Linked DNA regions of Homo sapiens: region 2 is linked to region 1. The links come from fine-mapping of genetic effects on plasma protein levels. A gene starts in region 1. The other region holds a variant in brackets. All regions are shown on one strand. Distances are from middle to middle. Region 1 holds the start of DBH (dopamine beta-hydroxylase). Region 2 overlaps SARDH (sarcosine dehydrogenase).

What was found. PIP is the chance, under the fine-mapping model, that this variant and not a neighbour inherited with it causes the effect. The UK Biobank Pharma Proteomics Project read protein levels with antibody pairs (Olink). The fine-mapping took linkage between variants from a reference panel, not from the people measured, so its PIPs are less certain.
Region 2: its variant is fine-mapped to the plasma level of the DBH protein (UK Biobank, PIP above 0.99).

Annotation. Positions count from the first base shown.
Region 1 is chr9:133,625,806-133,639,789 of GRCh38, reverse strand. DBH (dopamine beta-hydroxylase) reads right to left here and starts at 3,427. Exons shown (of 12, transcript NM_000787.4): 1 at 3,080-3,427. The coding sequence starts at 3,418. RefSeq lists an enhancer at 1,427-2,162.
Region 2 is chr9:133,712,467-133,727,786 of GRCh38, reverse strand. SARDH (sarcosine dehydrogenase) reads left to right here. Exons shown (of 21, transcript NM_001134707.2): 7 at 8,745-8,849; 8 at 10,332-10,461; 9 at 14,663-14,749; 10 at 15,078-15,168. Among named protein-coding and RNA genes, the nearest start is that of SARDH, 18 kb to the left of the region's middle. RefSeq lists enhancers at 1-346, 10,779-11,480, 11,481-12,184. The variant C/T (reference allele first, on the strand shown) is at 6,720.

The DNA.
Region 1 (13,984 bases):
AGGGGAAGAGGGCATTCCCCGGCAGAGCTCCGCATTCATTGCCAGCTGATCTGGGGATGCTGGGCCTCAGTCCCTGTGGATCTGAGGGTTCTGCCTGGGGCTGTGGCTTCACTCACACCTTCTATCTCCATTTCTGCCTGGAGACAGTGGAGATGAGCCCCGACAGTGGAGTTGGTTCCTCCTCTGCAGCCAGGAACCAGGGCTGTCACTTGCCAGCAGGTCACAGGTTCTGTTAGCCATGGGCATTCCCGGGCCTGGCGGGCGGGACACTGAGCTTCTTAAGAAGATGCCTGAGGCTCCCAAGGCCTCCTCAAGACTGGGAACAATGCCTCAGACCAATGCTGCCCACATTCATGCAGGCAGGAGAGTTGCGGAGCCTCAGAAAGGGGAGAGTTGGGAACAGGGTGGGACATGAACAGGAAAGGAGAGAGAAACCAGGGTGCCACATCTAAGATGGTGATTGATAGCAGGTGCCCACCCTGCACTGGCACAACCCTGAGAACAAGCACTGCTTTATTACTTTATAAATACATGTAATTTTGGATTTTTTTTTTTTTTTTTTTGAGATAGGGTCTCGCTATGTTGCCTAGGCTGGTCCTGAACTCCTGGCCTCAAGCGGTCCTCCTGCCTTGCCCTCCCAAAGTGCTGGAATTACAGGCATGAGCCACCACACCCAGCCTGAAGCACCACTTTAAACCCTGCAGCCTAGGCATTGTTCCCCTCACCTTAGTCCCAGCCCTGCTTGGAGAAGGTAAACTGAGGCCCAGGGAGGCATTGGACCTGCTGCATTCTCCGAGGATGCTTCCTGGGATCTGGATCAGTGACCTCTGCCCTCCCCGTCTCCGGCCGCTCCCCTTGCACTGGGCCCTAAGGGGCAGGGACACGGTGGCCCGAGGCCAGGTCACATGGAAGACCACCAGGGAGACCCACTGAGAGACAGCGAGGAGCCTTCCCCAACAAGCAGGCTGCCCTTCGTACTCAAGAAGGGCCCTTCTTAGATTCCATATTTGTCTATTTGGCATCTATTAATTGATTGAAGGCTCAAACAGATGGTCAGAGTTGTTTACACCTGTCCTGCCCTCCAACATTCACACGTGTGTGAGAATCATATTCCTAACATTCCGACCCACACCAAGCCCATATCCCTAGCTACCTCCTCCACCTGACTCTCACACCCCAGGCCAATATTGCCCCAACCCTAAAACACCCTAGGGCCAGGAACCAGGCAACTAGAGACCACCCCAGCCACCCAGAGCCCACCAGAATTGTCCAAACGAAGCTGCTTCCCTGCCCTGCCTGGCCTTTCCCATGGAAACCCCAAGAAAGCCTCGGGCCCTTGGCCTTAAGGACTTTGGGTTGTGTTTCTTTTTAATCTTACATTCAGGGTAAAACATCTTTTCTTCATTTCCTTGAGAAAAAAGAAATCTGCAAAAGATACTGCAAAACTTTCCCTAGAGAAAAAAGCCACACAATGCAACCCCGCTGGGGACACCGCTGGTTTGCCGAGAGACTCATTTTAAACAGAGGCAGAAAGTTCGCCTGTGATATTTCAGCTGGAAATCAAGAAGATATTAGTTGAACATATTGCTTAGGGAGGAATAATAAGGCTGACATTTGCTTTCGTAGGAATTTGTTGTGCAAATTAACCTTGCCAGTGCACGGAAAGGCAAAGTCACCTGGCTTCCTCTGGCTTCCCTAGCAGCCGGGAAATGCAGGCAGGGGGGACGCTGCCCCAGAGAGGAGCAAATGCTCCTGCACTCAGGGTGCCTCATGGCAGAGGCTTGCGAAGAACCCCAAACTGTCAGCGATGGGGTTCAGCTGCTCCTCCAGACGGCTGACGGCTCAGAATCAGGGCTGTCCCAGGTCTTTCTTGGCTGGAACCTGAGCCACAGAGTGTCTTTGTGCACAGGAATCTGTGCAGCCCTATGGGTCAGAGCAGGGCCCTTCCCAGGCAGCTCCACTCACCCTACCTGGGTGGCCCTAAGCCTCACTAGCGACACAGGCAAGTGCCTCCTGGCCGAGTCTTGGGAATTGGAGGGGGCAAGCTCAGCTCCAGAAACAGCAGCCACCATCTGCCCTCATGAATTCACAACACCCAAAAAGGCAGAGAGGGACTCTCCGCCCCACCAGCCCATGGTGAGACCAAGATGCAGAGCTGGAGCCGGCCGCTCCGCACAGACACAGCTCCCCCGCTCCAGCTCGGCACTCCCAGATAAAGCAGGCACCTCCTGACTTCAGAAATAAAACTTTTTTGTCACTCCTTTGTGTGTTTCTGTGGAGAGAGTTGGGTTTCATCCACAAAGAAGCCCTGGTGGCCAGTCCCATGTGGAAAGGAAGGCTGGAGCAGGACCCATTGTAGGCGGTGGGCTCGCCCACTTCGGGGACCCCCTGCAGCTTGTGGAAGGGCCTAAAGTCCCCTCCAGTTTGAAGGGAAACTTTTCCCCTTTCTCCACCCTGTGAAACAAGAGTGGAGGTAAATTTGGACGGAAAGGAGTCAAGAGCCCATCCTAACAGTTTTGGCTGAGCCCTGTGGGGCTTGTTCAACACCTATGGGTAGGGGCAGGGTGTCTGCACCTGCTCAGTTGGTCCACGGGTACAAGCACAGTAGGTCAGGCTGGATCCCATGGGTGTGCAGGCCTCATGCTGTGCCCAGCCACGCGCCACCACCTGGCCCACATCAGTGGGCATGTGTGCTCTGGGGACGTGGTACTAGGCATTGTTTACAGGGCCGAGGGTCGTGGGGTCTGTGCTCATGCGCGTGTGGGGTGTGGAGCGGCACGAGTGTGTGTGGTGTGTGCGTCCTCTGTGTATAGTTCCATTCCTTGGGATTACTGGGTCCCATGATTTGGGGCGGGCAGTCAAGGACCATGGAAAGCATGTCTTTCCTATTTTGTCCTCAAACTGAGATCCCCATGATGCCCAAGCTCGGGGTGCAGACTTGGCTCAGAGCAGAGTCAACTCAAACACTGACAGGTGACAGAAGAACTTTCTGGGTTAAGGAGGGTGAGTGCAGAAAGACGGCCAGATGGGGTGCCGGGTCAGGAAGGGTTTGGAGAGCTGGCAGGGAGGAGAGACTCACCGCAAAATAGGCAGTGTCCCCATCGGTCCAGAGCACCACGAGATCTGCGTTCTCAAGCTCGCCACGGTCGGACATCCCAAACAGGACGCCAGCCTTGAGCCTCCGCACCAGGAGCTGGAAATGGATGGCCTCCTGGGTGTAGCTGACATTCCATGAGAGCTCCAGGGACCCCTCCGGGTCCAGGGGGATGTGATAGGGGAGGGGGCTCTCACGGGGAGCCGAGCCCTGCAGTGCGGCCACCAGGATGACCAGGAAGATGGCCACTGCTGTGCTGTACATGAAGGCTGCCTCCCGCATGCTGGGGCCGGGCAGGCTGGCCCAGCGACTGAGGGCGGGCATGGCTGGGGTGAGCTCTCTGGTCCCACCTGGCCATTTATGCCCTGGTCCTGAATGGGGTGGGTCCAGGCAGCACGGGTAATCACATTTGTCTAGCGGGGAATCCAATTTTCCCTCCCACAAGCTTGCGCCCCAGGCCAAGCACTCAGCCTGCTGCCCTCCTCTAATTGGCACTAATGACACATGGACGTCATCAGTGGGAGTTGAAGTAGACAGGCGGATGCTGTCCCTTCTGAGATGGCTCTGAAGAGCTGTCCCAAAAGCAGATGCACCCTGCAGCCAAGAGGCCTTTCAGACACCCTCTGGCCAGGCACCAGCTGACTGCCTCACAGGCTGTCTGGCCCAGTCCCCAGTGGGATGGGGTCTGCGTCGCCTCTACCCACGGATGAGCAGACTGAGGTCCGAGGAGCTGCTCCAGGCTGACCAGTGAAGGATAGGCCCGTAGCCACTGCAGGCCTGGCCTAGCGAGCAGAGCCGTTTGTACAATACTAGCAGGTGGGCCCATTTCAAACCAAAAATAAGACAATCTCCAAATAGTCCCTGTGTTTAGACACTCTCTCCACGGCCTGCTCTTCCCACTTTTGTCTCCTCTCAATTTTTCCACAGCCTCCAGCTGGTACCACTGCTGCTCCAGAAGGCGCGAGAGCATCATAGGGAGTGGGGGACATGGGCGTGGGGTGCATTGCTGGGGACAGACGGAGCTGGAGCTGCACAGGGGATAGGCAGGCTGCAGGGTGCACTGCTGGGGGTGACAGCCTTTAAGGAAAAGAGGGTGAGTGACAGGCCTGCTCCCCTGTCTCTGAAGCTCCCAAACCCACAGCTTCCTCTTGCCCAGAGCAGATCTGGCCTGAATTTGAAGCCTCTCAGGGCAGCTGGCCGCAGCCCTGCTTCTCCCACACCTGCCACAGGACCTTTGCCATCATCCACCCGTGGGCCCGAGGGTCAGTCTCACCACGGCACCTCTCCCTCCTGTCCTCTCCCACAAGTAGACTGAGGGCAGCTGCCTTCAGGACATTCTGCTTGATCCCTCCAGCTCCACCCCCCAGGCTGGGTTGACAGATCTCTCCAGCTGGACTAGAAGCTGTCCCTCCTCCCCAGCCTCCTCCCTCCCTTCCTTCCTTTTCCCTCCTGTTTCTCGTCTCTCTGGAGAAACCCAGAATCTAGCCTTAGGGGCACATTCATGTCATAGGCTGACAGCAACATTTAGGTCCTTAAATACCCATGACAGCAGGTCTGGAGGCTGCTTCAGCTCTGAGCTCTACGCTGTAGAAAGGAATGACTGTGTCTTTGCACGAACGTGAAATTTGGAGAAAGTGCCAGCCTTCCCCTGGCCCTCGCAGGCAGTGCTCTCTGCCCCACAGTGGCCAGGCCATCCTGCAAAGCCAAGCTCAGGCCATGAGCCCCTCCCCACTGATTGCACCCAGAGGGGCACCGTTCGCCCCCACCCACAGCCCAGGCAGGTGAGGTCCAAGTGCATAATCACCTGTGCAATAGAGTGTGGCATTGGTGTGAAATTGTCTCCCAGGCCAGGGGAAAGACACTCTTGGGAGTTCTCTGGTGAGCCTTGGGAAGGGTCTCAGCCTCCGAAGGCCTGGCTTTCCCATCAGGACATGCCACCTCCGTCGCCTGAGAGCACCTCACCTTCATGCCTCAGATTAGTTCCAAAACCTCCTCACCTGTGCCTTGTAAGCAGGTGTCTGCTGCATCCCGGACATTCACTCTCGGGACTGGGGAGCGGCCACAGCGAGCCGGTGATACGAAGAGCCTCCGGGGTGGGCAGGCACTGGTGTTCCCAGCACGGGATAACAAAAGCCAGCAGAGGCAGAGGTGAGGGTCACGGGCTCCACAGCACACCCAGCTCAGGGGTGAGCCCTCCCAGCAGCCTGGTGGCCACCCAGGTGGCTCCAGCTAGACAACAGGCTAAACGAGCACCAGCTGGGGCCCGCGTTGTGGGAAGGGGGGCACCTCTCTCCCCTCTGGGGTATTGAGGCCCCAGGCACCCCTCCTGCTCCTCCGGGGTCAGAGCTCTGGGGTCATATCCTGCTCCGCCCTCCTGAATGCGCAGCTGGCGTCCTCAGAGAAGCGCTTTCCAACCCAGCGCCTCCTCCCCATCTACAGACACAGGAAGTTGGATGACAAGGACAATTGATCCCTCCAGCTTCCTTCAACCCAGCGGTTCTGTGGAGCGAGAGGCAGTGAAGAGCCCCTGATGCTACCAGCCCTTGGACGGCTCAACACACCTCCAGGCCTCGCTCCTCTCCCGGATACGCCAAAGACCAACAGCTGCTGGGAGCTCTAAGGAGGGACGGCAGGTGCGGTCTCGTGCTCAGCAGTGTTATGCACACATGTTTATTTTTAACAGGAATCAAAGACATTTTCTTTATCCAACTCAAAACTGGCTTTCCTCTAGCATTTGACAGAAATGATTCAGCTGATTCCAAAATACTGATAACTAAGTCCTAGGGAGGGACAGGAGACACAAGTCAGGCCGCACCAGGGCTTCCCCTGCCCTGCCTCCATCCTGGCCAGCCTTGGGTGGCTGGGTGTGCGATCATCCCTGTCTCAGACACAGGAGAGTCAGCCTCGGAGAGGCGAGACAATGCGCCTGAGCTCACAGGGTGGGCCAGTGCCTGGGGCAAGCACCCCAAAGAGGGTGCCCTGAGCTGGAGGGGGCTGCACACCTTGTCAGCCAAGGTCAGAAAAATTCCACTGGAGTCAAGAGGAAGGGACGCTCAAATGAAAAATGCAACCGCAGAGAAAATCTGCGGAGACTGGGGCCGGGCGGGAGGGAGCGAATCCAATCGGATGGCCCCGTGGCTGCGCCCTTCCTTGCATTAATGGATTTTAAAAGGGAGCAATCCGACCCCAGGGTAAGGAAGCAACAGTCAGCTCTCCTCCTGCCCTCACCCTCCTCAGAGGTGACACCTGCTTGCCAGGTGCTCTCTTGGCCACATGCCTCCCTGTGGTGCCCCGCGGGGGGCTTTCCTCCCTGCTCCCACCCCTGCTGCCTCTGCTCCAGTGTCTGGGTGCACGTTGCCCTCCAGAGGTGGCGGTGGGGGTGGGGATGGGAATGGGGGTGGGAGTGGGGTTGGGGGTGGGGTAGGCCGGGGAGGTGCAGGGTGTCACGGCCACGGTGTCAGGAAATAAGCCCCATTCCTGCTGCTCAGCGCCTGGCTTCCCTCCAAGGCGCATCGACGGCTGACCTTGTTTAGAACCAATTTCAGCTTTTTAATAAGCCCTTTGCTTTCCTGAATCTCTCTGATGCCATCAGCCTTTGCAGGCTGTAATTCCCCATCGCCTCTGCCACATGAGGCTGGCTTCTGCTGACGTCCTAACCTCAGGCAGTGACAACCCCAAGTGGAGCGACGGTGGTGCAGACTGGAGCTGGGTGAGTGAACAGGCCAGGCCACTCCCCAGTGACAACGGGGCCTGGCCACAGGACAGCACTGTCCCTCGCCTGTGGCTCAGGCTCTTAGGGACCTCCTCTTGGCAGGAAAAATTCAACTATCAGTCTGATGGCAGTGCCTAGACCTGACTTGTGATGGGATGGATTGGGAGCTGCTGGGAGACGGTGACTCTGTCCATCACAGAGCCCACTCCAGGGTGGCACAGTCCCCTTGGGGAACTTGGGGCAGCTGGCCTATGTCCCTCCTCGTCCTGAGCATAGGGGCTGCGGTATGAAAGTTAAGAGGCACATTCTGGGCTGGGCACAGTGACTCATACCTCTATAATCCCAGGACTTTAGGAGGCAAAGACGGGAGGATTGCTTGAACCCAGGAGTTCGAGACCAGCCTGGGGAACATAGCATGACCCAGTCTCTACCAAAATAAAAATAAAAACAAATTAGCCAGGCATAGTGGCACAAGACTGTAGTCCCAGCTACTCGGGAGGCTGAGGCGGGAGGATCGCTTGAGCCCAGGAGTTTGAGGCTGCAATGAGCCCTGACTACACCACTGCACTCCAGCCTGAATGACAGCGAACAACCCTGTCTCAAAACAAACAAACAAAAAGCATATCCTGCCTGAGGAGGCAGCGGTGGCACCATGCCTCTGCCTCTGCTCATAAGCGTAGGTGGCCGTGAGAGTTTGAATGCTTGGGATATCCCATGGCCTGAGGTGTCCAGGGCCTGGGGCACTGAGTAGGGTGGCTACAGTGGGATCAGCATGAGGACTGGGCCCAGGGCAGGTCACAGAGGTGCCCAGAGCACCACTGAAAGCTTTCCTCAGCTACTGGATTAGAGGCACCCTCTGGCCCTGAAGCTCTGTGCCAAAAGCAAGGGGCCACTGATCCCAGAAGGGGTCGGTATCGTGAGCCCCAGTGACACTCCCCTGGAAGCTCCCAGGGAAGCAGAACCCAGGAGTCTGTGGCTGGCTCCAGGGCTGGGGCTGCCAGGCCTGCCAGGCCACTCCTGTGTGACCCCAAGCAGCCCCACTGTGAGCAAGTCCTCCACTGTCACTGGCAGGCGGCTGGCCTGGGCAGGACACAGCCTCCCCCGCCTCCATCTCTCCTCCATACACAGGGGTCAGCGAGATGGGGAGGTGGACTCTCACACCTGCGTGGCCTGCACCCCCAGCTCTGGGCTCATGCTCACATACTCAGTTTTACACACACACACACACACACACACCCCTCCAATAATTTGGCCTCAATCTTGGGGCTGAGGCCTGCTGGGCCCTGAGGAATCTTACAGGGAAACCCTTTCTGGGTCCTGCTTCTCCTTTTCTCCATAAGGATGCGTGACTGCTCCTCTCTCTTGAGCAGCTCATGGGGGGAGGTGCATGTGCCTGATTTTTGCATTTTCAGCTTTTCTGAAGGGACCACACTGCCAGGATGGTGGTGGGTCCTGAGGCAGTAGCTCCAGACCACACCCAAGCCACAGCGTAACTGTGGGCACCAGATGGAAAGAGAGGCCCTGAAACCTGCCGGCCATGTGACCCACCCGGACAGTCCCCACAGCCCTGAGCCTTCTTTCCTCATCTGTGAAATGGCCATCTTGCTCAGGACCGGCACTGGCGCTGACTTCTGGCTACAGAGGCTGGGCCCTGCGTGGCCTGCACCAGCACTCAGGGCTGCTGGTCTTGCCCCCCGCTGGCTCCTGCCAGCCATGACCCTCTTCCTGAGGCTGTAGTTCATCTGTCAGTAAGCTTGGTCACCTCAGAGATCCACCAGGTTGACCTACCATTGACCCAGAATGGGGCCGATGCAGTGAGGGCTAGCGAGACAGCCCCGGGCTGCCCTCACCCGCATCCATCTCGGGGGCTGCTGCACCCACTGACATCACAGGGTCCAACAGGCAGGGCTCTGGCCCAGGAGGGTCTCGGAGAACATGAGAATCCGCCTCCCTCCCTGGAATCTCTCTGAGCTTCTGGCGTGTGGTGTGACAGACAGAGGGATGTCCCCCAATGGCCACGTCCAGATCCCTGCAAGTCGGGTAGGCTACCTGGGGAAGGGACATTCAGTGTGATTAGATTAAGGACCCGGAGGTGGGAGGTGGTCTTGGATTGGCTGGGTGGACCCCATGTCATCACAAAGGTCCTACGAGAGAGAGAAGGAGATGCATTGATGGGGTCCAAGGAGAGGAGGCTGCTTCCAAGACGGAGCAGGGGCCATGAGCCAAGGGATGTGGAGGCCTCTGGTAGCTGGAAAAGGTGGGAACAGATTCCCCTCCCAGAGCCCCCAAAAGGAGCCAGCTCTGCAGACACCTTGATTTTAGAGCTTCTGACCTCCAGAACTGTAAAAAAAAAAAATCGTGTTGTTTTAAGCCTCAGAGTTTTTGGTCATTTGTTACAGTGGCCACAGGAAATACAAGCGCCCTCCTCTCCTAGTGTCTGCTGGCACCGTCACACTCTGGTGGGACCCCCAAGTGCAGTCGGAGACTGTGTTCCCTTCTTTTTGTCCTGTTATGGTTTTGGTTCTCCCAAAAGCAGACGCTGAGGCAAGGGTCTGGATGTGAGCAGGCTGTGTGGAAGGAGAGCTCAGAGTGTGCGGAGACGGGTGGGCAGGGGAGTGGGAACACTCACGAACCGTACTTTCATAATCAGTTTCCTCCATGGGCAGTAGGGACTCAGTTCCAAGGGGACCCTGGAGAGACTGTGGAATGCACCCCAAAACTGTCACATCAAGGGTGAAGAAGCCGGGGCCCTCACCTTCCCACACCCATCCCTCACTGGCAGAAGGACGCTCCTGGGGTATCAGAGCCCAGCATGGGGGCTGCCGGCTGGTGGGCCAAGTCCACTCACACAGCCAAGCCCACCCCAGGGTGGGAGGGGGGGGCAGAGATGCAGGAAGTTGTGGGGTACCAGTTGCCTTGGGCAGGCCCAGGAGATGGGGGTTGTGGTGAGAATTGAGGGTCAATGCCCTTTGCACCATGCCATGTGCAGTGGGAGCCCTGTGTGGGACAGCTGTCACCAGGTTGTGGTCTGGGCTCCCGAGTCCTGAGATGCCCTCTGAGTCCACAGGCTCGTAGGAGCCGTGTCTGCAGCCCACCTGCCTCTTCCCTAGGCGAGCATGCAGGCACTGGGCGTTCTCGTGAGTGAGGGCACCCAACCCTTCCAAGTCACATGGAGGCCCTGACTGTCACCATTTCACAACTTAGGATGCCGAGGCCTAGAGACAAGTGGCACTGGCCAGGGCTCCGTGGTCATGGGTGGTGGCTGCAGAGTGGTAGGCCTGGAAGAGCGTGGCGTCTGGCGTCCATGGAGTCTGGAGAGGAAGGCTGGCCTGGGCCTCCCGGGCGGTTCCATGCAGGCTCTGCTGACTCTCAAGATGGGGGCTATGGCAGCCTCAGAGTGGGCGGGCAGGGTTCGAGTGAGCTGCCTGGCAAAGGCTACAATGCCAGCGACCAGCCCTCAGACCCCCGCTCAGGGCTTATGGGCCACTTCACCACCAACCCCTGGAGCTCGCGGCTGCCACACCCCACTGGACACAGACCTATGTGGCTGAGACCGGCGCCACCCAGCCCAGGACCCCCGGACCTGCCCTGACTCCCTGGGCCTTGGCTGAGAACAGGGGACTTGGGCCCCAAGGTCTGAGTGGTCAGTCAGCCCTCATCCCACCCCCCATGCCCATTTCAGGGCCAGGTGTTCTTGGAAACCTGATCCCAGAGATGCTGAAGGGCAGAGCCTCGCAGGCTCAGCAGGGCTTCCACTGGCCTCAGCGCCCAGGGCCGAGGGGGCATCTGTGGTCCTACCCGGGGGCAAGCAATGTGGAGGCTGAGGCTCAGGAGTGCTGTCCCTTGACATTTAGGTGAGTTTCACTGGGAGGGACATGGTCCTTATCCCAGAGAAGTAATCAAGACAAAGGCAGAAAGAGGCAGGTGCATGTTCCTCAACCTCTGTACCTTGTTTCCTCAGCTTATGGGGACAGTGACAGAATTACACTCGCATTTCCTCAGGCTGGGGGCTCCCCGAGTCAGTGCAGGCAGAGGCTGGACCATCTGTGCTTAGTGAGGGCTCCCTCCACGGTGGCGAGCTCTATCATTATAAACATCCAGACAAGCCTGAAAAACACGGCGCAGAATCACTCCCTCAAATACGACTACCATTAACAGCTCAATATGTCGTCTGTCAGAACAGCTTTTCATTCTCTGAAATTTTTAAAATTGTTTATTATTGATTTGTCACATCATGTAAAATGTCCCGCCTTAACCACTGTAAGCGTGCAGTTCAATGGCTTTCAGTGCATATTCCTATTACCGTGCAACCATCACCACCATCTGTCTTCAGAACGCTTCATCTTGCAAAACTGAAGTTCTGTGCCCATGAAACAACAGCTCCCTATTCCCCCTCCCCCAGCCCTGGGCACCTACCATTCTACTTTCTGTCTCCATGATTTTGATGACTCTAAGACCACATAGACATAGAGCCATACAGGATTTATCCTTTGTGTCTGGTCTATTTCACTGAGCATACTATCCTCAAGGTGAATCCAGGTTGTAACATGTGTCAGAGCTTCCTTGCCTTTTAAGGCTGGAGAAGAGTCTATTGTATGAATGATCACACTAGATGTATCCATCATCAGTAGATGGACAGTTGGGTTGCTTCATCTTTTAGCTGTTGTGAATCATGCTGCTGGGTGTGCAAATACCTCTTTGAATCCTTGTTGTGAATTCCTTTGAGTGTGTACCCAGAAATGGCATTGATGCATCCTGTGATAATTCTACTTTTAATTTTTGAGGAGCCATCACTGTTTGTTAAATGGCCTGCTGTACACACTGTCCTGCCACTGGTGTTTTCCACGTGCATGTTGGATATATGTTGAGTATACACGCTCAGTGCTGCCTCCGCCTTTGACAGCTCTCAAGTATCCCACTGCAGGCATGGTCTCTGATTGATTTAGCCAACTCCCTGTTGATAAATATGTGGGTCGTTTGTTTCTTAAACTATGAGTGACAGCGGTGCAACTCTTGCCTTTGTCTGCCGGCCCTCATACACTTGTACCCACGGCTCTATAGCATCAGTCCTCAGAGCCCGGGCTGTGGAGCCAAGGACTTTGGGCTCCCTAATTGAAATCAACCCACAGGTTCAAAAGGCTTTGGTCAAGGGGGATGCTCAGACGCTGGCTGTTATGCCACCAGCCAAAGGCACAACTGCCTCCATGGAACAAATAGTTTCTAACAGGTAAGTAGGTTTAAACCCTGTTGATGGGCCAAATTAGCTATTGGACCAGGCAGCCTCCCTCCAGCTACAATCAAATGCATCACATACATAAACACAAATTCAATCAAGCCTAAGCCTTGCCATCTGCTTTTCAAAGATGAGACTTTGGAAACAAGCAGGTCTCTGTGCCTGGGGGCTTCTGACATTCACAAAGTAAGAAGCAGGCAACGATCTGCACACCCTGATCCAATTTCCCCTCTGCTGATCAAGTTATGGAGAGACTTGGCCCCATAAGGCCCTGGGGAAAGGGCGAATTAAAATGACCAGGACAGAGATGGTCTGTGTCACGTAGGAGGTGAGGAGGTAGCATGAGCTACAGTGCTGATGAGGATATCTTTCTGGGTGGCACTGGTCAATACCTGGAGCAACAGGATGTCTTGGAAGTGCTGGGATTGCCAAAGGCCTGTTTGGTCCCAGGAGAACAGGTCTGGGTTTGAAGTGTCTCAGCATGGTGGGTTGGCCAAGGCCACTGAAATGGTTTGGATCTGTGTTCCTGCCCAAATCTCATGTTGAATTGTAATTCTCACTGTTGGAGGAGGGACTGGTGGAAGGTAATTGAATCACGGGGGCAGGTCTTTCCTACGCTGTTCTCATGATGATGAATAGGTCTCACGAGATCTGACGGTTTTATAAAAGGGAGTTCCCCTGCACATGCTCTCTTGCCTGCCGCCATGTAAGATGTGACTTTGCTTCTCCTTTGCCTTCCGCCATGATTGTGAGGCCTCCCAGCCACGTGGAACTGTGAATCCATCAAACCTCTTTTTTTTTAAATAAACTACCCAGTCTCAGGTATGTCTTTATTAGCAGCGTGAGAACAGACTAACACACTGTCCTCGTGATAGTGAGTGAGTTCTCATAACATCTGGTTGTTTAAAAGCATGTAGCACTTCCCTCCTCTCTCTCTCCTGCCACCCTGTGAAGATATGCTTGCCTCCCCTTTACCTTCCACCAAGATTGTAATCTTCCTGAGGCCTTCTCAACCATGCTTTCTTTACAGCCTATGGAACTGTGAGTCAATTAAACCTCTTTTCTTTATACATTACCCAGTATCAGGTAGTTCTTTATAGCGGTGTTAGAATGAACTAATACAAAAAATTGGTACCAAAGAAGTGGGGCATTGCCATAAAGATATCTAAAAATGTGGAAGTTACTTTGGAACTGGGTAATGGGCAAGAGGTTGGAACAGCTTGGAGGGCTCAGAAGAAGGCAGGAAAATGAGGGAAGGTTTGGAACTTCCTAGAGAATTGTTGAATGGTTTTGACCAAAATACTGATAGTGATGTGGACAGAGATGGCCGGGCTGATGAGGTCTCAGATGGAGATGAGGAACTTATTGGGAACTAGAGTAAAGGTCACTCTCACTATGCTTTAGCAAAGAGACTGGTGGCATTGTGCCCCTGCTCTAGAGATCTGTTGAACTTTAAACTTGAGAGAGATGATTTAGTGTATCTAGTGGAAGAAATCTCTAAGCAGCAAAGCATCCAAGACATAACCTGGCTGCTTCTAACAGCATATACTCATATGTGTTCACAAAGAGATGGTCTGAAATTGGAACTTATATTTAAAAGGGAAGCACAGCATAAAAGTTTGGGAAATTTGCAGCCTAACCATGTGGTAGAAAAGAAAAACCCATTTTCTGGGGAAGAATTCAAAGTTGCAGAAATTTGCATAGGTAAAGAGGAGGCAAATGTTAATAGCCAAGACTATGGGGAAGATGCCTCCAGGGCATTACAGAAACCTTTGAGGCAGCCCCTCCCATCACAGGCCTGGAAGCCTAGGAGGGAAACATAATTTAGTGGGCCAGGCCCAGGGCCCTGCTGCTCTGTGCAGCCTCTGGACGTGGTGCCCTGCATCCTCGCTGCTCCAGTTCCAGCTGTGGCTAAAAGGGACTGAGGTACAACTTGGCCATTGCT
Region 2 (15,320 bases), 87 kb before region 1:
TCAAGCGAAGCTAGGGGGTGTTACTTACAAAGCCAGTCCAGATCCCAGCGTGCCTCTGGTACCGGAGCACAGGAAAAGGGCCATCAGCCCCAGCAGCTCTGAGACCTGGTAGGAGAAAAGTGGAGATCTGGGGCTTCGCACAAAGCCCCTCATGTTCCTCTGACACCTGGCCATGTGCAGGTGTCTGGAAGTTGTCCCTTCCAGAGGCTGCAGCTAGGCAGTTGGTGTGAATCTGAGGAAGGAGCCAGGCCGCTGGCCCTGACCTGCCCACCTGCTGTGGTCTGACCCTTGGATGGGCCACAGAACAAGCCAGGGGGCCCTCTCCTGGGCGCATGGCACCTGTGCAGCCCATTTCTGTCTGCTCAGGAAGCTCCCTGGGCGTGGCAGCCTCGTGCAGCAGGACGCTGTCTACCCTGATCAGACACAGCCACACACATTGGGGCCTGGGGGCTCCAGCTGGCAGGTGAGGGCTCAGGTCTCACGTGTGGTTCATCTTTCTTCTTGGGTGGCTGGAGGGCTGTGTGGCCCCAAGGACCTCCCTTTTCTGAGGATCTGTCCCAGGCCTGGGTCCTAGAGAGCTCTGCCCACAGCTTCCTTTGTGGCTAGGGCTCATCTCTTCCCTCTCTGAGCTATCATTAAAGCAGGTGGCTCGGGCGCTGTTAGGGGGTTTCACAGTCGTGCTCTGGCGTACTTTTGCAGTGGCAAGGAGCGGCTGCTCCATCCGTGGGCAGAGCTGTGGGTAAGAGCCTGGGTGCTGGGTTTAAACACTGACTCCTCCATTACCCAGGCTGGCCAAGTCTGTCACCGCTCTGGTTCCCTTTCCTGCAAAATGGGTCATAACCATCCCTACTGCCTCAGGCTGTGCTGCAGGAAGGACAGAGTGATGCAGCTGGGAGTGGTGCCCGGCATACAGCAGGTGCTCATGAGGTGGTAGCTGTGTGATGACAAGGACAAGGACAGAGGGTTGTGAAGTCGTCACCAGCTGGCGCTTCGGAGGAAGAGAACACGGAGGGCAGGAGCAATCAGGCAGGGATCAGATGGAAGAAAGAGGCAGATGGAAGGCATGGGCTGAGGTCAGGAGGCAGGGAGTCAGTGGCACCAGGGCCAGACTGGGGACAGCCAGAGCAGGAGGCTGCTGCCTGGAGAGAAAGGCCAGGGCTCCACTGGACGCTGATGCTGAACTGGGCACTCCGCTGGGTGCTCAGAGGCAGCAGGATCTGTGCAAGGGGCAGGTAAGTCCAGACATGGATCCTGCTGGGACAAACATCAGGGGCTTCCCTGGCCACCAGGTGTCCCCACTGTCCTGCTCTATGGAACTCTGGGGCTGGCTTTGTTTTTAGAGTAGTAGTGCTAGCAGAGGTAAGGATATAACTACTACTACTACTACTACTATTATTATTATTATTATTATTATTATTTGAGACAGGGTCTCACTCTGTTTCCCAGGCTGGAGTGCAGTGGCATGATCATAGCTCACTGCAGCCTTGACCTCCTGGGCTCAAGCGATCCTCCCACCTCCACCTCCCGAGTAGCTGGGACTACAGGCATGTGCCACCACTCCTGGCTAATTTTTGTATTTTTATAGAGATGGGGTTTTGCTATGCTGCCCAGGCTGGTCTCAAACTGCTCAAGCGATCCTCCTGCCTCAGACTCCTAAAGTCCTGGGATTACAGGTGTGAGCCACCTTGCCCGGCTGTGATTATTTTTAAACAGTGCTCAGTTACTAGGAACTTCTATGTGCCACCTGACAACGATCCCCTGGTGCAGATATTCTCATTCCAATGAACAGGACTCCTGGGATCCTGGCGGAGAGGGAGGAAGCATCTGCCAGAATGTCCCTTCTGGTCTCTGCACATCCCCTTTCCTGCTCCCAGAGACAGGACAGGGGTCGTATCTCCCTGTGCTCATCTCCAGTTCTGGGGCAGGTGACAGAGGGATTGAGAGAAGGCTGTTCCTCGGGTACAGAGGAGTCCACACGCCATGCCTGCTTGCTTTCTAAACGGTCTTGTTTGGTTTGGCTTGTTTATTGGTTAAATCAGTGGTTCCTCTCTGCAATATTATGATGATGTAAACACTGCTTTTTTGTTTGTTTGTTTTGTTTTGTTTTTTTTGAGACAGAGTTTCACTTTGTTGCCCACACTGGAGTACAGTGGCACAGTGTCAGCTCACTGCAACCTCCGCCTCCCGGGTTCAAGCAATTCTCGTGCCTCAGCCTCCCATGTAGCTGGGATTAAATGTGCCCGTCACCACACCCGGCTGATTTTTTTTTGTATTTTAGTAGAGACGGAGTTTCACCATGTTGCCAAGGCTGGTCTCGAACTCCTGAGCTCAGGCAATCCACCCATCTCGGACTTCCAAAGTGCTAGGATTACAGGCGTGAGCCACCATGCTTAGCTGATTATGTAAACATTGTTAATACCTGAGCAAGTAGTGTCCAACTTTTTGTGTTTCTTGGAGTTATTAACAGTTTTTGTCCCAGCTGCTCAGTTTCTTTTGTAACTGTTATGTGTGTGTGTGTAACATTATCTTCATGCCCCAAAACCCATACCCGTTATCAATCACTCCCCATTTCCCACCCTGTCCCCAGACTTAGGCAATCCCAAATCTGATTTCTGCCTCGATGGAGTTTCCTATTCTGGACGTTTAGTATAAATGGAATCACATGATGTCTGGCTTCTTTTTACGGTTTTGTCCGTGTAGTACATGTATCAGTATTTCATTCTTTTTTGCAGCTGAATAATACTCCATTGTATGGATACAATGCACTTTATCCGTTCACCCACTGGTGGACATTTGGTGTTTCTCATTTCTGGTTATTTTGAATAGTGCTGCTGTGAACATCCATATGCATGTTTTTGTGGGGACCTATGTTGTTATTTCTCTTGAGTTTAAACAAGTTGAGCACCCCAAATCCGAAAATCCAAAATGCTCCAAAATCCAACACTTTTTGAGCACTAACATGATGCTCAAATGAAATGCTCACTGGAGTATTCTGGATTTTGATTTTTGGTTTGGGGATGCTCAACAGGTAAGTATAATGCAAACATCCAAAATCAAAAAAAAAATTAAAAATGTGAAACACTGCTGGTCCCAAGCATTTCAGATAAGGAATACTCAGTCTATACACTGGAGTGGAATTACTGAGTCATATGGTAACTCTATTTAACATTTCAACGAACTGTCGGACTATTTTCCAAAGAAGCTGCACCATTTTACATTCCCACCAGTGAGGTATACGGAGGGGTTCCAGCTCCCCTCCATCCTCACCAAGTCTTGTTATTTTTTGTCTTTTTTTATGCCGGTCATCCTAGAAGGTGTGAGGTGGTGTCTCACCGTGGGTTTGATTTGCATCTCCCTGATGACATGATGTGGGGCATCTCTTCATGTGCTTACTGACTATTTGTGTATCTTCTTTGGAGAAATGGTTACTCAGACACTTTGCCCATTTAAAAATAGGGTTGCTTATCTTTTTATTGAGTTGTAGGAGTTCCTTAAATATTCTGGATACAGGTCCTTTGTTACATATATGATTTATGAACATTTTCTTCCATTCAGTGATTGAAACTTCTATTCAGTGGTTGTCTTTTCCCTTTCTTTTTTTCCCCCAGAATCCAGAAGTCTTTACATAGCCTTTTCGCTTTTTTATGGTATGGTTTGTAGCACAAGTTTTAAATTTTAATAACGTCCAATTCATCTCTTTTTTTCCTCTTTTGTCATTTGTGCTCTTGGTGTCATATTTAAGAAGACATTTCCCAACCCAAGACTATAAAGATTTACTTCTAATATTTTCTTCTGAGGCTTTTATAGTTTTAGCTCTTATACTTATGCCTGTAATCCATCTCAAGTTAAATTTTGTGCATGGTGTGAGGTAGGGGTCCAACTGCATTCTTTTGCATGTGGCTATCCAGTTGGCCCAGCAACATTTTTTACAAAGTCTGCTTCCCCCAAGGAATTGTCTTAGCACCCTTGCTGAAAATCAATTGACTCTGAAGAAGAAGGTTTATTTATTTTATTTTATTTTTTTGAGACAGCGTCTCGCTCTTTTGCCCAGGCTGGAGTGCAGTGGTGTGATCTCTGCTCACTGCAAGCTCTGCCTCCTGGGTTCATGCCATTCTCCTGCCTCAGCCTCCCGAGTAGCTGGGACTACAGGTGCCTGCTACCACGCCTGGCTAATTTTTTGTATTTTTTAGTAGAGACAGGGTTTCACCACGTTAGCAAGGATGGTCTCGATCTCCTGACCTTGTGATCCACCCGCCTTGGCCTCCCAAAGTGCTGGGATTACAGGCGTGAGCCACCATGCCTGGCAGAAGAAGGTTTATTTCTCGACTCTCAATTCTAATCCATTGATCTGTAGGTCTATCCTTACTTAGTACCTCACTGTCTTGATTATGTAGCTTTGCAGTAAGTTTGGTATCAAGAAGTGTGAATCCTCCAACTTTGTTTTTCCTTTTCAAAATTGTTTTGGGTATTCTTGGTCCCTTGCATCTCTGTATGAACTTTAGGGTCAGCTATTTAATTTCTTCAAAGAAACTAGCTGAGATTCTGACAGGCATTGTGTTGAAGCTATGGATCAATTTGGGGTGTGTTGTCAGCTTAACAAAAATAAGTCTTTCATTTCATGAACGTGAGATGTCCTTCTATTTATTTAGGTCTTCTTTAATTTCTTTCGAAAGTATTTTCTAGTTTTTAGAGTACAAGTTTTGCAATTCTTTTGTCAAATTTGTTCCTAAGCATATTTATTATTTTTGATGATATTGTAAATGAAATTATTTCTTAACTTCCTTTTCAGATTATTCAATGCTAGAGTATAGAAATATATTAGTTTTTTGGCTGAGCCCAGTGGCTCATGCCTATAATCCCAGCACTTTGGGAAGCTGAGGTGGGTGGATTGCTTGAGGTCAGGAGTTCAAGACCAGCCTGGCCAACATGGTGAAACCCTGTCTCTACTAAAAACACAAAAATTAGTCAGGCATGGTCCCAGCTACTCGGTAGGCTGAGGCAGGAGAATCACTTGAACCCAGGAGGTGCAGGTTGCAGTGAGTTGAGATGGCACCACTGCACTCTAGCCTGGGCGATAGAGCAGGACTCTGTCAGAAAGAAAGAGAGAAAGAGAGAGAGAGAGAGAGAGAGAGAGAGAGAGAGAGCGCTAGTAGTTTTTTAGTGGTTTCCTTAGGATTTTGTATATACAAGACCTTGTTATCTGCAAATAGGAATATTTTTACTTCTTCTTTTTCAATCTGGGTGCCTTTTATTACTTTTGCTGCCTAATTGCTGCCCTGGCTAAAACCTCCAATGTAATGTTGGGTAGAAGGGGTAAGAATGGATATCTTTCTCTAATTCCTGATCTTGGGGGGAAATCAGCCATCCTTCTTCCTTGAAGTATCACATTCCATGTGGGTTTTTGTAGATACCCTTCAGCACTTTGAGGAAGTTCCCTTCTTCCAAGTTTGTTAAGTGTTTGTTGAGGCTTTAAAAAAAAAAATCATTAAAGATGTTGGATTCTGTCAAATGCTTCTCATGCATCTACTGGGATGATTACGTGGTTTTTGTCCTGTACTTTGTTGATGTGGGGTATTCTATTGATTGGTTTTCATACATTATACCAAACTTGCCTTCCTAGGATAAATTCCAGTTGGCCATGGTGTTTTGTTTTGTTTTGTTTTGTGTTTTTGAGACAGAGTGAGACTCTGTTGCCCAGGCTGGAGTGCAGTGGTGTGATCTTGGCTTACTGCAACCTTCGCTTCCTGGGTTCAAGCAAATTCTCCTGCCTCCACTCCTGAGTAGCTGGGATTACAGGCATGTGCCACGACACCCAGCTGATTTTTGTATTTTTAGTAGAGTTGGGGTTTCACCATGTTGCCAAGGCTGGTCTCGAACTCCTGACCTCAAATGACCCTCCCGCCTTGGCCTCCCAAAGTGCTGGGATTACAGGCATGAGCCACCACGTCCAGTCTGGCCATGGTGTATCATCTCTCTTATATATTGCTGGATTCAGTTTGCTATTGTTTTGTTGGGGGTATTTGCATGTGTATATATAACTGTCACTATTTTTCCCCAGTTGTGTCAAGGGATCTGTCAAACATATTGATACTATTGATACTATTTTCTGAATACGCACACACATCAGATAAACCACCTAACGCCCCCAAGTCCCATTTCCCTCCCCTGGAGGACTTCCTGCTGCCTTCAGATCTTCCGCTCCCTTTTGGACTGACCGCTGCATGGTCTAAGCTGTCACTCCAGGGCCTTCTTCACGCCTCCCCGCTGGAGCCATGGCTTTCACTCTTTCTGGGTTTATTTTCTTCCTTTTGTCACAGCGTGTTCTCTGGCTGTTTACTGCAAAGGAGTACGAGAGAAGTATATGTTTTGTGTCCATGAATGTCTGAAAAAGCTTTTATTCTTTGCTTACACTCGATTGATGGCTTGACAGGATCTAGAATTCTGTGTTGAAAATCATCCATTAGACGTTTGAAGAGTTTGCTCCATGTCTTCCAGCCTCCAGCGATGCAGTCCCCTGTTGATGGCCCTCCTGGCCATCCGGTGTTGTGATGTTTCCCACGGCGTGGCCTTGGTGCAGGCCTCTGTCCAGACTCAGGGCTTGGTGGGCACTCTTGGGCCCTTCCATATGAATGCGTGATTTTCAATCGGAGGACTCTTCTTGGGCTGTTGCTTGGACATTTTTCTCGACTCCATTTTTCTCTGTCTTCTCTTTCTGGAAC[C/T]GCTGTAAAATGGATGTTGAACTTTCAAGACGGACCTTCTGATATTCTTATTTTTTTTCCACTCCTGATTTCTGTTTTGTTGTCTTTTTCTTTTAGCCTAATCGCTGGATGATGGCCCCAGCCTTATCTGGCCCTTCCATTGAATTTTAAATTTTGACTATCATATCTCATTTAAAGACCTCTTTCTTCATCTTAGATTCCTTTCTCATAGCACTGTCTGTCACTCTGATACAGTTTGGCTGTGTCCCCACCCAAAGCTCACCTTGAATCGTAATAATCCCCATGTGTCAAGGGTGGGGCCAGGTGGAGATAATTGAATCATGGGGTGGTTTCCCCCATACTGTTCTCATGGTAGGGAATAAGTCTCAGGAGATCTGATGGTTTTATAAAGGGAGTTCCCCTGCACATGCTCTCTCTCTCTTTCCTGCTGCCATGTAAGACATGCCTTTGCTCCTCATTTGCCTTCCACCATGATTGTGAGGCCTCCCCAGCCATGTGGAACTGTGAGTCCATTAAACCTCTTTCCTGTATAAATTACCCAGTCTTGGGTATGTCTTTATTAGCAGCGTGAGAACACACTAATACACCATCTTCTTGTATTCCTGATGTTCTTGTTGTGGTTTGTGGTTATTTATTTATGAGACAGAGTTTCACTCTTGTTGCCCAGGCTGGAGTGCAATGGTGCAATCTTGGCTCACTGCAACCTTCGCCTCCCAGGTTCAAGCCATTCTCCTGTCTCAGACTCCTGAGTAGCTGGGATTACAGCTGCCCACCACCACGCCCGGTTAATTTTTTGTATTTTTAGTAGAGATGGGGTTTCACCATGTTGGCCAGGCTGATTTTGAACTCCTGACCTCAGGTGATTCACCCATGTCGGCCTCCCAAAGTGCTGGGATTACAGGTGTGAGCCACAGTGCCTGGCCTGTGGTTTTGTTTTATTTATTTATTTATTTATTTTGAGACGGAGTCTTGCTCTGTCACCCAGGCTGGAGTGCAGTGGCACGATCTCGGCTCACTGCAAGCACCACGTTCTGGGTTCACGCATTCTCCTGCCTCAGCCTCCCGAATAGCTGGGACTACAGGCGCCCGCCACCACGCCCAGCTAATTTTTTGTATTTTTAGTAGAGACGAGGTTTCACCATATTAGTCAGGATGGTCTTGATTTCCTGACCTCGTGATCTGCCTGCCTTGGCCTCCCAAAGCACTGGGATTACAGGTGTGAGCCACCGTGCCTGGCCTGTGGTTTTGTTTTTAGGAGAGAGTGAGCAGCAGTGTGATTGGAGGCTTGGAGGGGAGGACTGGAGAGCCTCTCAGGAAGGGTGGGCGGCAAGCCTTTCGCTTTTAGAGAGACCCTGGTGTCAACATCTCAAGCCTTCCCTGGGCCTCTCAGTGTCTCACAGAAGAGTCTCCAATCTGCTCCTGGGGTGGGGGGGTGGGGGGATGGCAGTCCACTCTCCCCACTTCTGGAGCCTCTCAGGACCCACCTCTCCAGAGGAAGATCCTTCCATACATGAGCAAGCGCATCACCCCCTGAAGAGGGACCTGGGGTGGCTCTGAAGATTCAAGAGGAGGCAGGAGGGGCACACTGGCTTGCCTTGCTCAGTCTCCCTCTCCTCCAGCCCCAGCTAAGTCTCACCCCTCCTCCATCCACTCTGCGTCCTCCAGGGTTGGTTGGAATCTCCCATCCTCTACTGCTGCCTCTGCCTGTTCTCTCATCTTTGTCGGTTATATGTTTTGCTTCCCTCCCTTCCTCCCTTGCTCTCTTCCTCGATCCATTCCTTCTTCCTTCTTCCCCTTTTGCTGTTATTTTATGGGATTTGGGGAAGGAGAGGCTTGAATGGCAGTGACCCATTCACTGTGTGTAACTTGAGGCCCCGTGTCCACTCTGTCCTCGGGGTCCTACAACGAGAAGGACCATCTCGAGCCCGTGACCCTGGGTGGAGGTGCTGGCCCACCACGGGGCATGGGGAACCAAGTCCCCACCCAGTTCTGGATGATGCCAAGGCCTCTCTCTCTGCCTTCCAGAACATGCCCAATGTCCGTGATCATGATGCCTCTGTCTACCTCCGCCTCCAAGGGGATGCCTTGTCTGTGGGTGGCTATGAGGCCAACCCCATCTTTTGGGAGGAGGTAAGATGCCAGGGCCCTGGGATAATGGGAGGGAGTTGGGGCTGCATCTCAGCATGGAGAGGGCCTCTTTCAGGAAGTCCATCCTCCTGAAGCTCCTCAGAGGCACACCTGAGAAGTGGCCGGTCCCCTGACCCCACCAAGCTCAAAGCCATCTTGCTCTTACCCTGACGGTCCTGGCAGGCAGTCAAATACAGACCCAGGGCAGCTGGAGGGCTTTGCCTCAAAACATCCACAGAGAAGGTCTGCGCAGTGTGGAGTGATGACCTCAGAAGGGCATGAGAGCACACAAGTCCTACGTCCTTCAGCAAATGACACTGCCCTCCCAACCAGCTGCTGCAGCGGCATTTCCCCTGGCCTGGGCTGTTTCCCGGGCAGCTTCTGGGGTTAGGGCAGCCCTGCAGCCCTGTTCTATGTGTATATGCATTTAGTCCACACATGGAACGACTGAGTGGCTACTTTGGGCTAAAAACTGCTTTAATTTCTGGAGAAAGAGGGAAACTAAGATAAAAGTCCCTGACTCTGGGTGCCTATATTTTGGTGGAGAGACATACAATAAACAAACAAATGGCTGGGCACGGTGGCTCACACCTGTAATCCCAGCACTTTGGGAGGCTGAGGTGGGCGGACCACCTGAGGTCAGGAATTTGAGGCCAGCCTGGCCAACATGGTGAAATCCCAACTCTACTAAAAATACAAAAATTAGCCAGGTGTGGTGGCGGGCACCTGTAATCCCAGCTACTTGGGAGGCTGAGGCAGGAGAATCACTTGAACCCGGGAGATGGAGGTGGCAGTGAGCCGAGATCGCACCACTTTACTCCAGCCTGGGTGACAGAGTGAGACTGTTACAAACAAACAAACAAACAAATGAACAAGGAATGAAATTCTGGAAGATGATCGCGCACTGAATAAAATTAGCAGGTTAAGGATCAGCCTAGAGAGACTGGAGCAGAAGGATATCCTTTAGATGGGTGGTCAGGGCAGGGTTTTTCAGGGAGGGGACATCCAAGCAGAGCCCTGCACCGCGACAACAAACCAGCGTGCCAGGTCTGGGTGAAGAACTGCCCCATTGAGGGGTGAAGGCCTTGAGCTCACACAAGCTTGCTCTTCCCAAAGAGCTGCAGGAAGGTCAGGGTGGCGGGCCCAGTGGTAGAGGTAGGCAGGCTGGCACATGCCATACAGGGCTTTGGGGCCATCGTGAGCTGCAGGGGGCCAGAGGAGGCTTGTGAGTAGGGAAGGGGCATGGTGGGATCTAGGGGAGTGGGTGGAGGCCTGGGCTGGGGTGGGGAGGGGGAGCAGACAGACCTTGCTGATGGGTTGGTGGGTGGGGGAGACAAACGGCTGGGACGTGTGGGTGACCACCAGCCCTCTAATGCATCTGATTCAGCAGAGGCTGGCCTGGCAGCCATCACAAGGCAGGTTTGGCATGGGGATGCATGGCCTTCTTGGGGACAACGGAGATGTTCCCCTGCCCTGCCTTGGCAGGTGTCAGACAAGTTTGCCTTCGGCCTCTTTGACCTGGACTGGGAGGTGTTCACCCAGCACATTGAAGGCGCCATCAACAGGGTCCCCGTGCTGGAGAAGACAGGAATCAAGTCCACGGTCTGCGGCCCTGGTGAGTGACAGCCTCGGAGCTGGGGTGGGCGTCCATGGGTCCTTTGGTCTGATGACTGTTAGTAGTGATGCCCCGTGAGACCAGCCTGTGTCACACAGGGGACCCAGGGCTGTCCCCGGTCCCTCTCGCTGCTTGGCTCCAGCAGCCCTGGGTACTAGGTGTGGCCTTTATTCCCCTCTACGGGCGAGAGGCCTGGGCTTCACAAGGGCCATCATCTGCCCCAAGCACGAGGCCAGGGCCTCCTCCTGCCTCAAGGGTGGCTGGTCCTGGCTTCCCCACCTGGGCTTCTTCATCCCTAGACTTGACTTGTCCCTGGAATTCTGTGTTTTCATCTGTAAAATGGGAATAGCGGGCCACATCCCAGCACCCTGTGAGGCTGAGCCAGGAATGGAAGGGCTGAGACCTTCCCTGATGAGAGGCTTATACAGCTGTGAGTCCCAGTTCTGCCTCCAGCCCCAGCCCCCACCGCTCCCAGAGAGCACTGCCCTGGCCAGGACCCCATGCTGCTGGCCTCCCTCCTGTTCTTGGCGGCTTGCACCTGGAGGCCAGCTCAGCGGGGGAAGGTTCTTGTGTCAAGATTCCCCTAACTCTGGCCCTCCTTGCTAGCCCCAGGAGAACTTAGCTGGAAGAGGCTGGAGCAAAAAGGTGGGCTCAGCTCCCAGATGCCCCACGTGGGTCATCCACAGCGCAGCTCAGCCCCACCCCACCCTACTGGCCTGGGGAGCCTGGAAGGCTCTGCCCCAGGGGGCGGGTGTGGGGCTGAGGCTGCTGGCCTGGGGAGCCCGGAAGGCTCTGCCCCAGGGGGCGGGTGTGGGGCTGAGGCTGCTGGCCTGGGCCCTGGCAAAGGTGCACTCTCTGGGAAGCAGGAGGGGCTGCAGCTGACCTTGGCACCCCAGTGTTTATAACCACGGGACTTTGAGCCAGACGTCCCTGAGTTGAGTGTGGGGCAGCCCAGGAGCTACCGGTGACCCCAGAGCACCAGCATTCCTTCATGAGGGCATTCATTCTACATTAAGTGGCACTTCGTCGGTGGTGGAGGCAGGCACGCTCAGGGCCAGCGCCCTCCTTCTGGCAGGGGAGACCCAATGCAAGTCACTGATCACAGCCCGTGGGTGGGTGCTCTGACACGAGGCATGGGGTGACTGGGTGGCCACAGCCTGAGGACACAGACGGGCGGCCAGGAGGAGGGGCAGCCTAGCCCGGCCCTGGAGGGCGAGTCAGCGCTGGGCCTGCCGCGGATACGTGATCTGAGCAGGGGAGCACCAGGTGGGCACAGACAATCCCCCACATTGGGGTTCCAGCAGAATCACATGGTGTTCCCCACTGCTTCCTGGTAGGGGGAGCTCTGGCCCCGCTTCAGGGCTGGGAGAGAGGTTCAGGAAGACACAGTGTTGCCCCCAGGGAAACTTCGTGTCAGAAGCCTGGTGAGTCCCTCTGTGCCTTTAGTGAAGGGCACTGGAATGGGTGCCCTCTGGAGTAGGTGCATCTGTGAGATGGTGACGGAGCACTGACTCGGCAGGGTGGCCTAGGGACCAGAAGCCACAGGGGCGGTGCAGGGCATAGGCCAGGCCCAGCAGCTGTAGAGAGCATTTGAGTAGAGGTGGGCGGCACAAAGCGGGGAGCCCAGGGACTTCCACGGGCCATGCAGGGAGCGGATGAGGGCCCTAAAGACAGGGAAGAGTCCCGACACAGAAGGGCTGTGGCCACCGAGGAGTCCAGCCCCCTCTGTCCTGGCACGCTCAGCATCTGCTCAGCCGTCAGCAGGGGCTACTTGAATGAATTCGACTCCTATGGGAGCCTTTGGAGTGAAGTGCAGCCCCGGGGAGAAGCAGATAGAGCCCCAGGGGCCGGGGCAGCGTGCAGGGTAGGAGCACACAGCCGTGACTCACTGCCCCCACCCCGCAGCTTGCGTGGGTCTGGCAGCGAGAAACACAGGCCCGGAAGAATCCCAGGGGCACAGATAACCCCAGGCGTCTCTCTGTCTCTCTCTATCTTTCTCTTCCTCTCGTTTTAATTAGCCTGGGGAGCCGGTACTCCCCACGAAGCCCTATTTTGGGGAAGATGTGCAGGCAAGGACATCTTGGATCTGGTCTGTCGGCTGGATGGGAGACTGGTGGGGAATCAGCATTTCTCCTTGCCAGGCACGGCCAATGGCCTTTGGCCTCCAGGAAAGAGCAGGGAAGTCCCAGGCCCCCGTGACTTAGGGAGCGCCTGGGAGGGCAGGCAGAGCTCTCATTCCAGGATGGTGGAGCTCACCAAGGTCAGGGTGGGAGCCGCAGGCCTGGCCCCTGGCCATGTTGCCTGGAGGTCCCATGTGTCCTCGGGTTACTCAACCCGCATGAGTCATTTGTGAAACATCCAAGAGACCCTTGTTCCCTGCAGCTGCCCCTCCGCTAGCTCTTGATAGCGCTCCCCGCAGATTCCCTGTGAGGTTGTTCAGAGCTTCTTTCCTGCCCTCCCTGGGCCTAGAAATAGTTCCAGCCCTCCCAAGGTGCTCCCTGGGCCATCCCCAAACCCAGCCCAGGTTACCTCCCCAATCCCCCCTTTTTTAAAGGTCTTGCTGTGTTGCCCAGGCTGCAGAGCAGTGGTGCGATTTTGGCTCCCTGCAGCCTCTACCTCCTGGGCTCAAGCCATCCTCCCTTCTCCGCCTCCTGAGTAGCTGGAACTACAGGCTCGCTCCACCACATCCGGCTAATTTTTTGATTTTTTTGTAGAGATGCCGTCTCGCTATGTTGCTCAGGCTGGTCCTGAGCTCCTGGGCTCCAGACATCCGCCTGCCTTGGCCTCCCAAAGTACTGGGATTACAGGCGTGAGCCACTGCACCCGGCCTCAGCTCACTCTTTCTGCCCCATCGTCACCTTCTCTGGAGCCTTCCTTGTCTCTCACCCAGATGGCTGCTCCGGCCTCTGCCCTCTGCCCTGATAACCCAGGCCCTCCACGTAGGGCCCTGCCCCTCTAGCCTGCCTCCTCCACCCTCCCCTGCAGTGGCCCTGCCACCTTCTGCCCCTCAAGGAGCCCTGCCTCTCCTGGCCAGGCTCTTAGCCCAGGCTCCCCGTGGCTCTCTGCCCCCTCAGCTCCTAGCGTGGGGGCCCTGATTGCTCTCCAGGGAGCGGGACGGCACTTGCTCCTGATCTGCATGCAGAGGATGACCCCCCAGACTTGGAGCCATCCCCGTATCATCGTTCACGAACGAAGTGCCCTGGGGTCCCTCAGACCAGGGCCGGCCGCTTCCTCATCTAGAGTCTAACATGGTGTGGTGCTGGGGTGCCAACAGTAGCAGCTGGCACCTCAGTGACGCGTGGCCCTCAGTTCATCGTATTTTCTTTACGAGACCGTCTGTTTTTTGCTTATTTAAGTATTTGCTCCCTCCCTCCGTCAGCTCCTCGAGGGCTGGGACATGTCCTGCTCAGCGCTGCCTCCCAGGGCCAAGCCCAGGACATGAACGTCTGTAGGCTGGCGAGCGCACAGCTCTGTGGAGGTTCTGCTATCCCAGTTTTATAGACTAGGACGCTAAGCCTTGCTCAGAGAGGCGAAGTGACTCGCCCAATGCCACACAGCTAGGAAGGGGTGAAGCAGGTTTTGAATCCAGGACTGTGGCCACAGAGAGCCAGGGTTCCCCTCCCACCGTGTCCTGGCCTCTGTCTGAGGCTCAGCTGTGGCCGCCGGAGTGGGACATTGGTCTCCTCCCCCGCAGAAGTTGGGAGCCTTTGTTGGCTCAACAGACATTTATCAAGCACCTGCACTTGCTGGGCTCTGACCCTGTGCTGGGCGGGGGGAAGTGGAGTGAGAAAACTGGTCTCTGCCCTCTCAAGGTCCAGTGGGCAGGAGTGACAAGTCTCTGGCAGGGACACAGCAGGACGCTGGTGCACTGGGGGAGCCGCAGCATGGTCTCCAGGGTCAGAGAAGGGCTCCTTGTCGGCAGGACAACGGCCACAAGACAGCGGGACCCCACCAGGCAGAACCCAGCCAGGTCGCCGTCAGCTGGTTCTGGCAGCACACGTGGAGGGGCTCAGAGAGCACGGGCAGGAGCCAGCGGGGAGGCCCCCATGAGGAAGTGGCGCTGAGCAGGGCCTAGAGGAGGGAGGGGGTTGGGTGGAGGGGCCCCTGCAGACCCTGCCTGATCACTGCTCTCTTGGAAGACCTCACCCCAAGAGTATGTGCACTGCAAAAGGGACTCCAGGCCTCTCTCTCCTTCTTTCAGAATCCTTCACGCCCGACCACAAGCCCCTGATGGGGGAGGCACCTGAGCTCCGAGGGTTCTTCCTGGGCTGTGGCTTCAACAGCGCAGGTGAGTCCGGGCAGCAGCCCTCCTGGCCCCCAAGAGGGAGGTCCTGTCATTCCCAGAGCTCTGGGGGAGGCGGGCGCAGGAGCACCGTGGCCCCCGACAGTGGTGGGGACAGGAGAGGCTGGGGAGTCCAGCCCCTTCTGCTTCCCAGAGAGTGCACCTGTGCCAGGGTCCAGTCCAGCAGCAGTCCAATCAGGAGGCGTGCAGCACCCCAGGTGTGAGAGCAGAGCTTGGAGTGTCTGTGCTGTCCGTGGAGATGGGGGCACATGTTTGGACATGGGTGGGGGACCCTGGGGGGCAGACCGCAGCCCTGCGCTTCTCTTCCTGCCAGGAATGATGCTGGGTGGTGGCTGTGGGCAGGAGCTGGCCCACTGGATCATCCATGGGCGCCCGGAGAAGGACATGCATGGCTATGACATCAGGTAAGTGCCCATTGGGACCTAAGGGCAGGGCCCGCCACTCAGGACAGGTGGCGTGGGGTAAACAGCGAGGGCTACTGAGAAAGGAGCCTTGCCTGAAATCCAGGTGGCTTCCTGGAAGGGGCAGCAGTGAGGGAGGAAGGCCACCAGCAGAA